2 separate regions of the Homo sapiens genome follow, and region 1 is linked to region 2. The links come from fine-mapping of genetic effects on gene expression. A gene starts in region 2. The other region holds a variant in brackets. All regions are shown on one strand. Distances are between the middles of the regions. Region 1 overlaps SYTL3 (synaptotagmin like 3). Region 2 holds the start of TMEM181 (transmembrane protein 181).

Region 1 (5,225 bases), 110 kb after region 2:
AACATAGTGAAACCCTGTCTCTACTAAAAATACAAAAATTAGCCGGGCGGTGGCAGGTGCCTGTAATCCCAGCTACTCAGGAGGTTGAGACAGGAGAATCCCTTGAACCTGGGAGGTGGAGTTTGCAGTGAGCTGAGATCGCGCCACTGCACTCCAGCCTGGGCAATAGAGCAAGCCTCTGTCTCAAACCAACAACAAAAAAACGAAAACAAAAACTATAATACAGTGAGAAAAGTGAAATTTTATTTGATGATGAAAGATCTTTCAGTGATTTGAGACATCCTTTTGAATATTAACAAAGTGACATAGACATAGTGATAACAAAGTTGTATTTCAAAGGGTACTAATTCTAGGGTAGATCCTGAAAGTTGAATTTTAAAGTGCATTTCTGATGTCATCTTGTTTCTTGGGATTGGCTCATCTTTTCTACAAGTAGGTATCACAGACATTCATAAAAGAGCGTGCTAGTAAATGACACCTTTTTGGTCCAATACAGTATCTCTTTGCACTATGGCTATTTGTCTAGGGGAGTGGGCTGACCACTTATTAAAAAAAAAATGTAGCAAAAGCATAGCATCAGTTGATTTTATTGGGCAACTTATACCCATAGCAGGATGTATGCTGTGTGTTTCTAGATTATTCCATGCCTTGCAGATTAGAATGGATGCTCCTTTCAGTGTCTTTTCCTCTCCTTTCACTATTCTTGCTTACTATCATAACAGCCTTTGGGCAGGAAGGGATGGACCTAGCAGGGAGCTTCTCTGCCCCAGGCATGTTATTTATACTTTGCCATTTAGTCCTCACAGCAACCCTGGGAGGTAAGGTCATATCACCTGTTTCACGGTTGAAAAAACCCTTGAGACTCGACTCTGAGATGTTGAGTGAGAGCCCAGTTCACACAGCCATGTTGGAGTCCAGGGATGTCGAATGCCAAAGCCCCTTCCCTTGCCATGGGGGTTACTGCCTGGGCTCTTGCCCTATAGCCTGGGGTCAGGTGTTCCATCTAATACTATCTTCTTTAACTCTGAGGGCTGCAGGAAACTGAAAACACACCTGCAGCATCTCCGGTGGAAAGGAGCGAAGAACACGGACTGGGAGCACAAAGAGAAGTGCTGTGCGCGCTGCCAGCAGGTGCTGGGGTTCCTGCTGCACCGGGGCGCCGTGTGCCGGGGCTGCAGCCACCGCGTGTGTGCCCAGTGCCGAGTGTTCCTGAGGGGGACCCATGCCTGGAAGTGCACGGTGTGCTTCGAGGACAGGTAAGCATGGCCGGTGGTTGGATCCCTCCCACTGATTCAGGTCTCGGAGGAGGCCTCTTTACAAACCGCTCATAAAGAGAGCACTCACTCCTCACCTTCAGCCAGTAAATGTGTACCGAGTGCCTGATAGGGAGCTACCTTTCTAGCCTTGGAAGTTATCTTCATCCAAAAATAAATTTTATGTAGCAACATTTTTTTCATTTACAGAAGTTTGGGCCAAGTGTGGTGGCTCATGACCGTAATCCTAGCATTTTGGGAGGCCAAGGTGGGTGGATTGCTGGAGCCCAGGAGTTTGAGTCCAGCCTGGGCAACGTAGTGAGACCCCATCTCTACAAAAAAATACAAAAATTAGCCAAGTGTGGTGGTGCATGCCTGTAGTCCCAGCTACTCAGGAGGCTGAGATGAGAGGATCATTTGAACCTGGGAGCTGTGATTGTACCACTGCACTCCAGCCTGGGCAACAGAGTGAGAACCTGTTTAAACAACAAAAGTTTGTTAAGTCGAAGGATGGGCTAACCCAGGAGTTCAGATTCATTTGGGTCTCTTAACTAAGTGCTGTCATTTTCTTAGCACTTAATTTATCTCCTTCAGTACCAGTGGAGTAAATTATAATCTAGGGAATATTGGAGTAATCATCTGAGGCTTTAAATACTGCGTTTTTGAAGCTGACCTGTCTTTAATACTCAG[C/G]TAAAGAAATGGACATGCTTCCCTTTAGTGACAGACTGAATCTACGTTTATAGTTATCAATTGGTGTTTAGGGGGTTTTAATACCAGTTTTAACATGGAATTGGTGTTTTTGCGTTCCCCATTCTGAAAACGATAAAGAGCCAACTTGGCTTAGACTCCTGCTGTTCAAAGCAAGAATGAACTGGCCATGAGCTCCGTGAAAACACTAGAGGGGTGACTCCGTCTGCTGGGGGAGACGGTGCACAAGGACATCACAGAACTTCGGAGAAGGGAAGGAATACTAGGCTGGTGTGAATGGGAGTCATCAGAGACCCTGAGATTTGAAAACAACTTCTAAATATTGCCACAGATGTGTGAGTGCCCCAGGGACAAAGACTGTGGGAGGCACTTACACAGTGTGGGCATTGTGGCTGGGGTTTCTTCCCCCTAAATCCGGAGGGCTGTGTTTAACGCACGCCCTGGCATTCATTTACTTAAGTGTCCTGTCCCTTTGCAAGGCTTACTGTATTTCAGTCATCTAGCCAGAGAGGTGAAGTGGTTCAACCTGATTTCTTTGCTCTTGAACTGCATTCCGTCCATTTCGCTCACAGCGTGCCAAGTCGCACGGACGGTGGCCGAATTCGCCTTCTCATCTCATGTTTCTTTGGTTTGCTGAAGCCATTGTCCTTCAGGCTTTTCCTTGCTTGAGAGCAAAAAATAATTACTGTGAGCTGCCCTGGCGGCATAGAGAGCAATTCCAAATCATCTCTAGAAAGGTCTCAGTATCTTCTTCCCCATTTCAACCAACCATATATATTTGAAGTCTAATAATAAACATTGCTGGGCAGGGTGTTACATTTCTCAGCATTTTTTCTTCTTCTACCAATGAACTGTAAACGAAAAATCAAAACAAGAGGACAAGGTCTGAGGCAATCTCCCAGGAAGCTGACAGTGTTGAAATCTCTGCCCTAGTGAGTCTTGTGTCCCAGGCACTGTAACTTTACCCTCTAAGTACATGAAATACGACTTCTAAAACCCCAGCTTCCTTATTTTGAAATGAGGTTGGTTTTCAAAATACTTAAGGTCATTGCATTACTATGAGTGCATTAACAGGAGAAGTCGGGAGGGGAGAGAGCCAAGTAGTTTGTGGTGATGTGCATTTTCTTTCCCCTCGCCTTGCTCCCTGTCCCCGCAGCCCTCTGTCCTCTCTCCAGCTTTATCCAGTCTGGGCTGTCCTCCTCCTCTTTAGGACCAAAAGAAAGATGAGACTTTGTAAAACTTTAGAATCTTTGACATTCATAACTGTCGCACATCTGGGGACCTAGAAAAGGTTTTTGACCCCGATCATTGTCTCCCCTGCTTCTTCCTTCGCTTCAGGCTCATTTCTCAAGAAAAAGTGGATCTGTGACAGGAACAAGATGAGGAAAATTGGTTTTTAAAATCAAGAAAGGGGAAGTGCTAGGGTAGCAATGACCAAAACCAACCAACCAACTCGCAGGTTGCTGCAGAACAAGAGGCCTGTGGCAGGTGTTGGCCCTGATCTTGTGTTGAGAGGTTCCAGAAGACATTTAAGATAAAGTTTCTGTCTTCAGGGAAGGTTTTCTCTTAGAGAACTGAGTGCCAAGTTGCTAAGGGCCCTGGGAGCTCAGAGAGGGAGAGATGAGGCAGGCTGAGTGGCTCAAGACGACTTCCAGAACATCCATGGTTGGAATAGTCTTTTAATGTTTTATTAAAAGCATAAAACAATCGTGTGGGGTAGCTACTACTTTCATCCTCATTTTACAGTTGAGAAAGTGGAGGATTAGAGACACAAGATGGTTTGTCCATGTCATATCAGTAAGAACAGAGTGAAGATGGCAACCCAGGTCCCCCCGGCCCCCAGGCCTCCTTCTGAATCTCCAGTCCTCTCCCGCCTGCTAGGAGCCTTGTCCTGGGAGGGCAGAGTCTTTTATTTATTTATTTATTTTGAGACAGAGTTTCACTCTTGTCACCCAGGCTGGAGTGCAGTGGTGTGATCTCGGCTCACTGCAACCTCTGCCTCCAGGTTCAAGCGATTCTCCTGCCTCAGCCTCCCAAGTAGCTGGGATTGCAGGCACCTGCTGCCACGCCTGGCTAATTTTTATATTTTTAGCAGAGACGGGGTTTCACCATGTTGGCCAGGCTGGCCTCGAATTCCTGACCTCAGGTGATCCACCTGCCTGGGCTTCCCAAAGGGCTGGGATTACAAGCATGAGCCACTGCGCCCGGCCGGCAGAGTCTTAAAAGCCACTTAGAAGAGCTTGCCTCCAAGACAGTAGGAGCTGGAGCCTGAGCATGTGCTCTTTGCCAAGCGAACACCATGCCGAAAGTCTGCCTGGTTTTGCAGGGCAAGATCAGGAGAGCGGAAGGTAAAGGTAAAAGAGCAATCTGAGAGTTGCTGCAGTGAATGAGAGGCACCGAGGGAGGAGGCTGGTGGCAATAGTGATGGAGAATGGGAGAGACAGGAAAAGGGGAGGATGGACCTTGGTTACAGGGGATAAAAGAGAAAGGTGAAAAGTGATTCTGAGGACTGGCCAGACAGGTCGCTTGGCATGCTGAACTGGATCACGGGGCATCCGAGAACCGAAGGAACAGAAAGAGCCCAGTAATCAAAGGCACACTGGAAAGGACTTAGAAGAACCAAGGAAAGTTGTTTTCAGTAGTGAAGGGGCTCCTGTTGTCCTCAGCAGGGGCCGATCAGAAGAGGGTGACTTGGGAGGAGAAACAAAGAAGTTAAAAGCAGAAACATCCTTGTTTTCCACTGATGTTTCTTCCCGGGGAATGTATTGACACTTTCTGCAGTGAAATGGCAGATGGTAACAATTATGTTGAAATATCAAGGAGGAGACTATGCTTTGTATGTTTGTTTTAGCTTCATCAAAAAAATAAGATTAACCTTGATGATTTATGTTTGCATTAATTTTTTCTATTAAAACGAATATACTGTGTCATAACTAATTCCACATCTAAAAGAAACCTGGTCTTCTCCCTTAAGATTGCTGAGGAATTACTCTTGTTCAGACTTGTTTCCTTCAAACTGTGATCTTCTTGTCATGCTTTGTAATTGCTGTGACAACAAATCAATGATTCTTCAGCTTCAGGTATCTGTGGACACACTGCCTGTTTCGTTAGGAACATTTTGCTGCCAGTCAGGTGCTTTAGAACCAAATTGGTTTGTACAGAGAATTCTGTAAGTTGCAAGTATTTTAACAATGATAAAGGTGCAACGGAGCTTATATACCATCATTAGAACAGAAGGTTTCAAGTTGCAGCAGGTGATACTGT
Region 2 (5,225 bases):
CACCCGCCATCACGCCCAGCTAATTTTTGTATTTTTAGTAGAGATGGATTTCGCCATATTGGCCAAGATGGTCTTGAACTCCTGAGCTCAGGTGATCCCCGCCTCACCTTCCCAAAGTGCTGGGATTATAGGCGTGAGCCACCATGCCCATGCCCGGTCAATTAAGTAATTATTTAGGTTATTGTTTGTTCTTGACTAGAAAAGGACAGGGACCTCATCTGTCTATTCGTGTTGTGTTTCCAGAGCTGAGAGTTGTTCCTGGCACACACACACTGCTCCATTAATGTTTGAAGAACAAATAAATGAGAAAACGAGTATGACGGGAGAAGAGGAGCTGAGGGCCATGTGGTTGTTCACATCCTTGAAGGAGTGTTGGGAGAGGGCTCATGCTGACCTGGGTGACGCTGGACAGCAAATCCAGGGAGATCTGACAGGAAGGAATTGCCAGGAGGTAGTTTGGAGTCAAATGCACACAGTGAGGGCCAGGGGTCCTCGGGGTGGTGACAGTTTCCTCTCGCTGGAGATGCCTCAGGAGAGACCAGGCAGCTGGCACAGAGCAGGGATTTCCACATCATCTCATGCTGCTCTGGGCTGGAGGTAGATACTGGCTGCCTCTAGGCAAATGTGGCCAGCAAATGTGCTTTGTTTAGTCCCTCCCAGGGTTTAAGATATTTTTTCGAATTAGTTTCCAACATTTTAGAATCAGAAGTGTCGAAAGACAAAATGACAGCAAATTTAAAGATCCTAAGTAGCTTTTCTTCATGATTCTAGAATCGGGCAGCCCTCAGAACCAACAGGTTCAAAGGACTTTGGGGCTGCAACGTGGTTAGACAACATTTATGGACAGAAAGTGGAACTGAGGCGCAGAGACAGCTTAACTGGTTACAGGTTTATGTTCTAGCTTATTTGAATCAGCTAACCACCTGCCAATGACAGAAGCTCACTGGCTGTGATTGGCTGAGACTCAGCTGTTTGTTACAAAAGCATCCTCCTCAATTAGGGTGTCTTCTCTTTTATGTTAACTATGCCAGGCTGCAGCTCCTTATGTAAGGACTCAAGTAGGGAGGCATCCTCAGGCCTAAACATTTAACAGAAGGTGTTGCATGAAAACGCATGTTTGGGCTGGTTGCGGTGGCTCACGTCTGTAATTTAACAGGCTCCGGGGTTGGGGACCCCTGCTCTAGCTCATAGAACTCCCTCCGACTCACCCCTTCCCGCGCCCCACGTCCCTGTGAACAGTCTGTCCCTGCAGGTACCCAGTTTCTGTTCTCCGGTCTTGTTGCTATGAAGAACCCTTTCCCTCTGCTTATGTATGAAAAGAACTTAAGAAATAATCTTTTGTTATTCCTTGAAGAGTTGCGGTTTAGGATTCAGAGCACTAATGAGATTTTGTGTAACTATTCCTTGGTGTCCTGGCTTAGGGTGTGCTTTGCTTGGTATCTCCCCCTTTTAACCCCCCTCTTCCTAATATCCACCTCACCCTCCAGATTCAGCCCAAACTCTGCATTCTGTCCCCTACCTTCTCCACTCCCCCAAGGCGAGTTAGGCACCCTTCCTCACTGTAGCACCCTGAGCTAAGGCTACCTAACTTACTGTTGGTAATTTTCTTTGCCTGTAATTTCACTGAGGGCAGGAACTGTTCCTTATTCATGTCCACACTTTTCTGCCAATAGTAAGCCTGTTTACAGTTTAGTGAATGAATGAGGATACATTGCAAAGGAAGCTTGGAAGTCCTTTATTTAACTCATGCAGACCGACTTTAAACCCACAGCACACGGGAACACGGGACATTTTGAGTAATGCTCCAAAGAGAATCTCAGAAATAGCCAAACCTTGGTTCTCATCCATTCTTGATTACAGAAATGGGGAACACTGAGCCAAGATGCGAAATCAGGAAAGTGCTTTTGGTCCACTGGTCTAGCTGCAGTCTAGAAGCGGCTTGCGGGAGAAGCTACCAGAAAGAGCCCGGAAGGTTCCTGTCATCATTCGGGGTGGCAGAAGTTTGTCCTGGCTTTTAACCTTTTTTGGGGTCACAAGACCCTTAGGGAATGAATATACAGCTATAGCTCCTCTCCCTAGAAAAATGCAGACACCCATAGTGTTTTCCAGACAACTGCAGGGCATTCGTGGACTCCCGAGGCCCATCCTTACGCCCCGACACTCGGGAAGTAGGAGTGAATGAATGCGCTGTTTACCTGCCCTAGGGACAAGAGGTAAACTAAGTCATTCATTCACTCATTCCTTCTGTCTTGAGCCCCAGCTCAGGGCTAGCCTGGGTGCTCCCGGCCGTGGGGCTCCGCCCCGGCACGGGGCCACGAAGGAGGGCCACCCCCCTCGCCGCGCGCCCGCGGCCCCGCTTCCACCGCGCCGCGCCCTCTTCCGCCGTGAGAGTCGCTTCCGCGCACGTGATCTCGGCGTCGCGCTCTGATGAGTTTTCCGCGGCCGGCCGCTGCTCAGCCGCTGTCGCTCCGGCTCCGGCTGCGGCTGCCGCTGCCGAGGCTGCTGCGCGGCGCCTGGCGGGCTCGGGACGCGCGGGCCGGGGCCGAGGGCTCTGGGCGCCGAGATGGAGCCGTGAGTCCCCGGCCGAGCGGGCGGGCTGGCTGGCTCTCCGGACACTCCGGCCGAAAGTTGGGGATCCCTGGCTCCCGGCGCCGTGCCGCAGGGTCCCTGGCGCCCACGTGGAACTGGGGGCAGGGAAAAGGGCGCTGAAGGGGGCTTCGCGGGCGGGTCAGGCGGAGGTGTTTGCGCGGGGCGAGAGTAGACCGGGGCCGGGGCTCCCTCCTGCCTGCCCGCCCGGCCGCGGTTAGAGACCGGGATGCGGTCGGGGTTCCGGGACGGGGCTGCGAGCCACAGCGCTCACCGGGGGGCCGAGAGAACCGGGGGCGCTGCGGCCCTTCCCCGGCGTAGGGTGGCCGCCCGCACGGAGTCCCGCCGCCTCCCGGGCAGCCTCTCCTGCCGGAAAGGCCCCGCCCCGTCGTCCCCTCGGTATCGAGAGCGCCCCGCGCTGCCCTGCGGTCTCGCCCAGCGCCGGGTGCGAGGCTCTCAGAGGCGATTGGTGACGTGGGCACCGGGGAGCCTGCCGCAACAGCCCCTTTGGACTCGGGGTGTCGAGTTATATGAGTTTTATGCGTTTTACGATCTGCTGACTTTGGGCTTTTTTTTTTTTCTTTACCTCTTTGAAGTCCAGGGTTTTTAATGAGGAAAAACCTGTTTGGGGTCTCGTGGACGCCATCCCTAAAGCTTGCTTTTGACCCAGCAGTCGCCTAGGTGTCCCCCTGGGCGCATCTGGAAAAGAAGGAGACGGAGTTAACCAGAGGGTTAGCGCCGCGTGGAGTTGCAGAAAGTCCGGGAGAAGGAGTGGCCCATATGTGCAGCCGCGCCTGGCGCAGGAGGCTTCCAGGGCCGGCTCCCTGCACTGAAGGCAGCCTCCGAGGGGCCTGGGCGCGCTTCTTGGCTTATATGCGGTTTTTGAGGCAGAAGGGTTTTGCTTTGGATCTTTGCTGATTTCTCTGGCTGTGGACGTGGTCAGAGAAGTGACACCCAGGCCTGTTGCCTCAGCGCAAGTGCCTGTGACAGAGAGATCTGTTTTTCCTTCTGCTTCCTTAGAAGTTTCTGACTTTGGTATGTTGCTTTAGCACCTCTTGGGAAACTGGAATGGCATCAAATATCAGACCTATGTGGATGTTTTAAAGATTTTAAAAGCCAAGTGGAGGTAGGTTAGCAGTATTGCCTCTGCACAACTCCAGAGGGCAAGATTCTTGTGCGGCCTATGTAAATAATACTGCTTGGAACGGTGTCTTGTGGAACTGTGGCCTTGTAGCAGAGTGACAGCTGCGTGTTACAGGAGTTCTCTCACGCGCTGCCCCTTGGAGCTGCATAGGTGGGCTGGGTGTGCTTTTTCAGTAGGAGAGAGGCCGGGGACGTGAGGTGGTGAGGGCCTTGGCCAGGACAGGGATCTGGGTCTTCTGCCAGGGTCCTGCGCTGTTACAGGACAGGGAACTAGACCAAAGAAAGCAGTTGACCAAGGAAAGGTCCCGAGGAGGACAAGCAAAACGCAGCTTGAATTTTGTGCGAGTTTGAGGCCTCCCCCTGCAGCTGTAAGCGCTTTGTGCCTCAGGCTCTGTGGAGCACTAAGAGGGTTAGGGAAGACGGAGGGGGATGAGGGTATCTGGAAATCAGCCCACCACCATCGGCCAGCATTCCAGGCACCTACCTGGAAACTGAGAAGAGTTTGGTAGCAGATAAAATCCTCCTAAAAAACAAGCCTGAAAATCCGAAGTGCGTCCTGGACTTAGGTGACTGAGTGTTCTCTGTCCTTGTCTGGTGTGCCTGAGAGCCCAGAGGTGAGAAAGGTGAGAAAGAAGAGAAGTCCAGGGAAAGAATGGGAGAGAACAGAGCCGCTTGGAGGAGCAGGGGCAGCTCCACCACTCTGCTTACGGTGTGTAGGGGACCGTCCCCCTGCAGACCCTGGCCTTATGACCTCTGACTCTCATTCGGCCCAGCCTGCTCTTTAAAAATGTAGGAGAGATTGCCATCAAAACTCATCAGCAAAAAAGGTTAGCAGTTCTTAACAGTTTTACCTTGAACTCTCCTGCAGTCTCCATTCCTTCTCTGATGATGCTAGGGACGGGAGAGGTGCTAGGAGTCTGAGGACGGTGTGGGGCGTCTCATTTGCTAACCTGACTTGTTTGAGCTACAGGGCTGCACGGAGTTGAGACTCTCATGCTCACATGTTGCTTTGGTCTTACTTTAGCATTTCTCTGCAAATTTAAATAAGGCTGTTTTTGTGTGTGTGTGTGTGTGTGTGTGTGTGTCTTGCTTGGCACGTGAAGCCATTTTTTAGTGTGTATTTTATGTGTCTTTTTCATCCTGGGGGCATTTCAATGTAGAAGTGTATTAATTAGAACCACCTTCGGCTAGCAGCAAAGCATGGCACAGACAAATTAAGTATCCTGGAGCCCTGCTGTGGTTTCAGGGTCCTGGGCCTCCTGAGTCTCCCAGTGCTTTTGAGGGCACACCAGGCTTGGGTCAGTATCCTATTCCTGCAATCATTTAATTATTTAGGACTTTGTCTCATGGAATGGTTTTTTGTTCTGACCAAAATGATCTCTAGAAATAGTAAAAGATAACTGTGAGTGTTCACCATGTAGCAAGTGCCGTCGTAAGCACCTTACATCCATTGTTTCGTGGAATCCTCACTATCACCTTTCGTGAGGAAGTTTCTC

What was found. PIP is the estimated chance that this variant, and not a neighbour inherited with it, causes the effect.
Region 1: its variant is the best candidate, but not a certain one, in a credible set for the expression of TMEM181 in nucleus accumbens (GTEx, PIP 0.68).

What each region holds. Positions count from the first base shown.
Region 1 is chr6:158,664,358-158,669,582 of GRCh38, forward strand. It overlaps SYTL3 (synaptotagmin like 3), which reads left to right. Exons shown (of 18, transcript NM_001242394.2): 5 at 1,038-1,256. Among named protein-coding and RNA genes, the nearest start is that of SYTL3, 17 kb to the left of the region's middle. The variant C/G (reference allele first, on the strand shown) is at 1,944.
Region 2 is chr6:158,557,662-158,562,886 of GRCh38, forward strand. It overlaps TMEM181 (transmembrane protein 181), which reads left to right and starts at 2,430. Exons shown (of 17, transcript NM_001376852.1): 1 at 2,430-2,571. The coding sequence starts at 2,564. RefSeq lists a silencer at 2,121-3,040 and enhancers at 3,460-3,961, 3,962-4,461.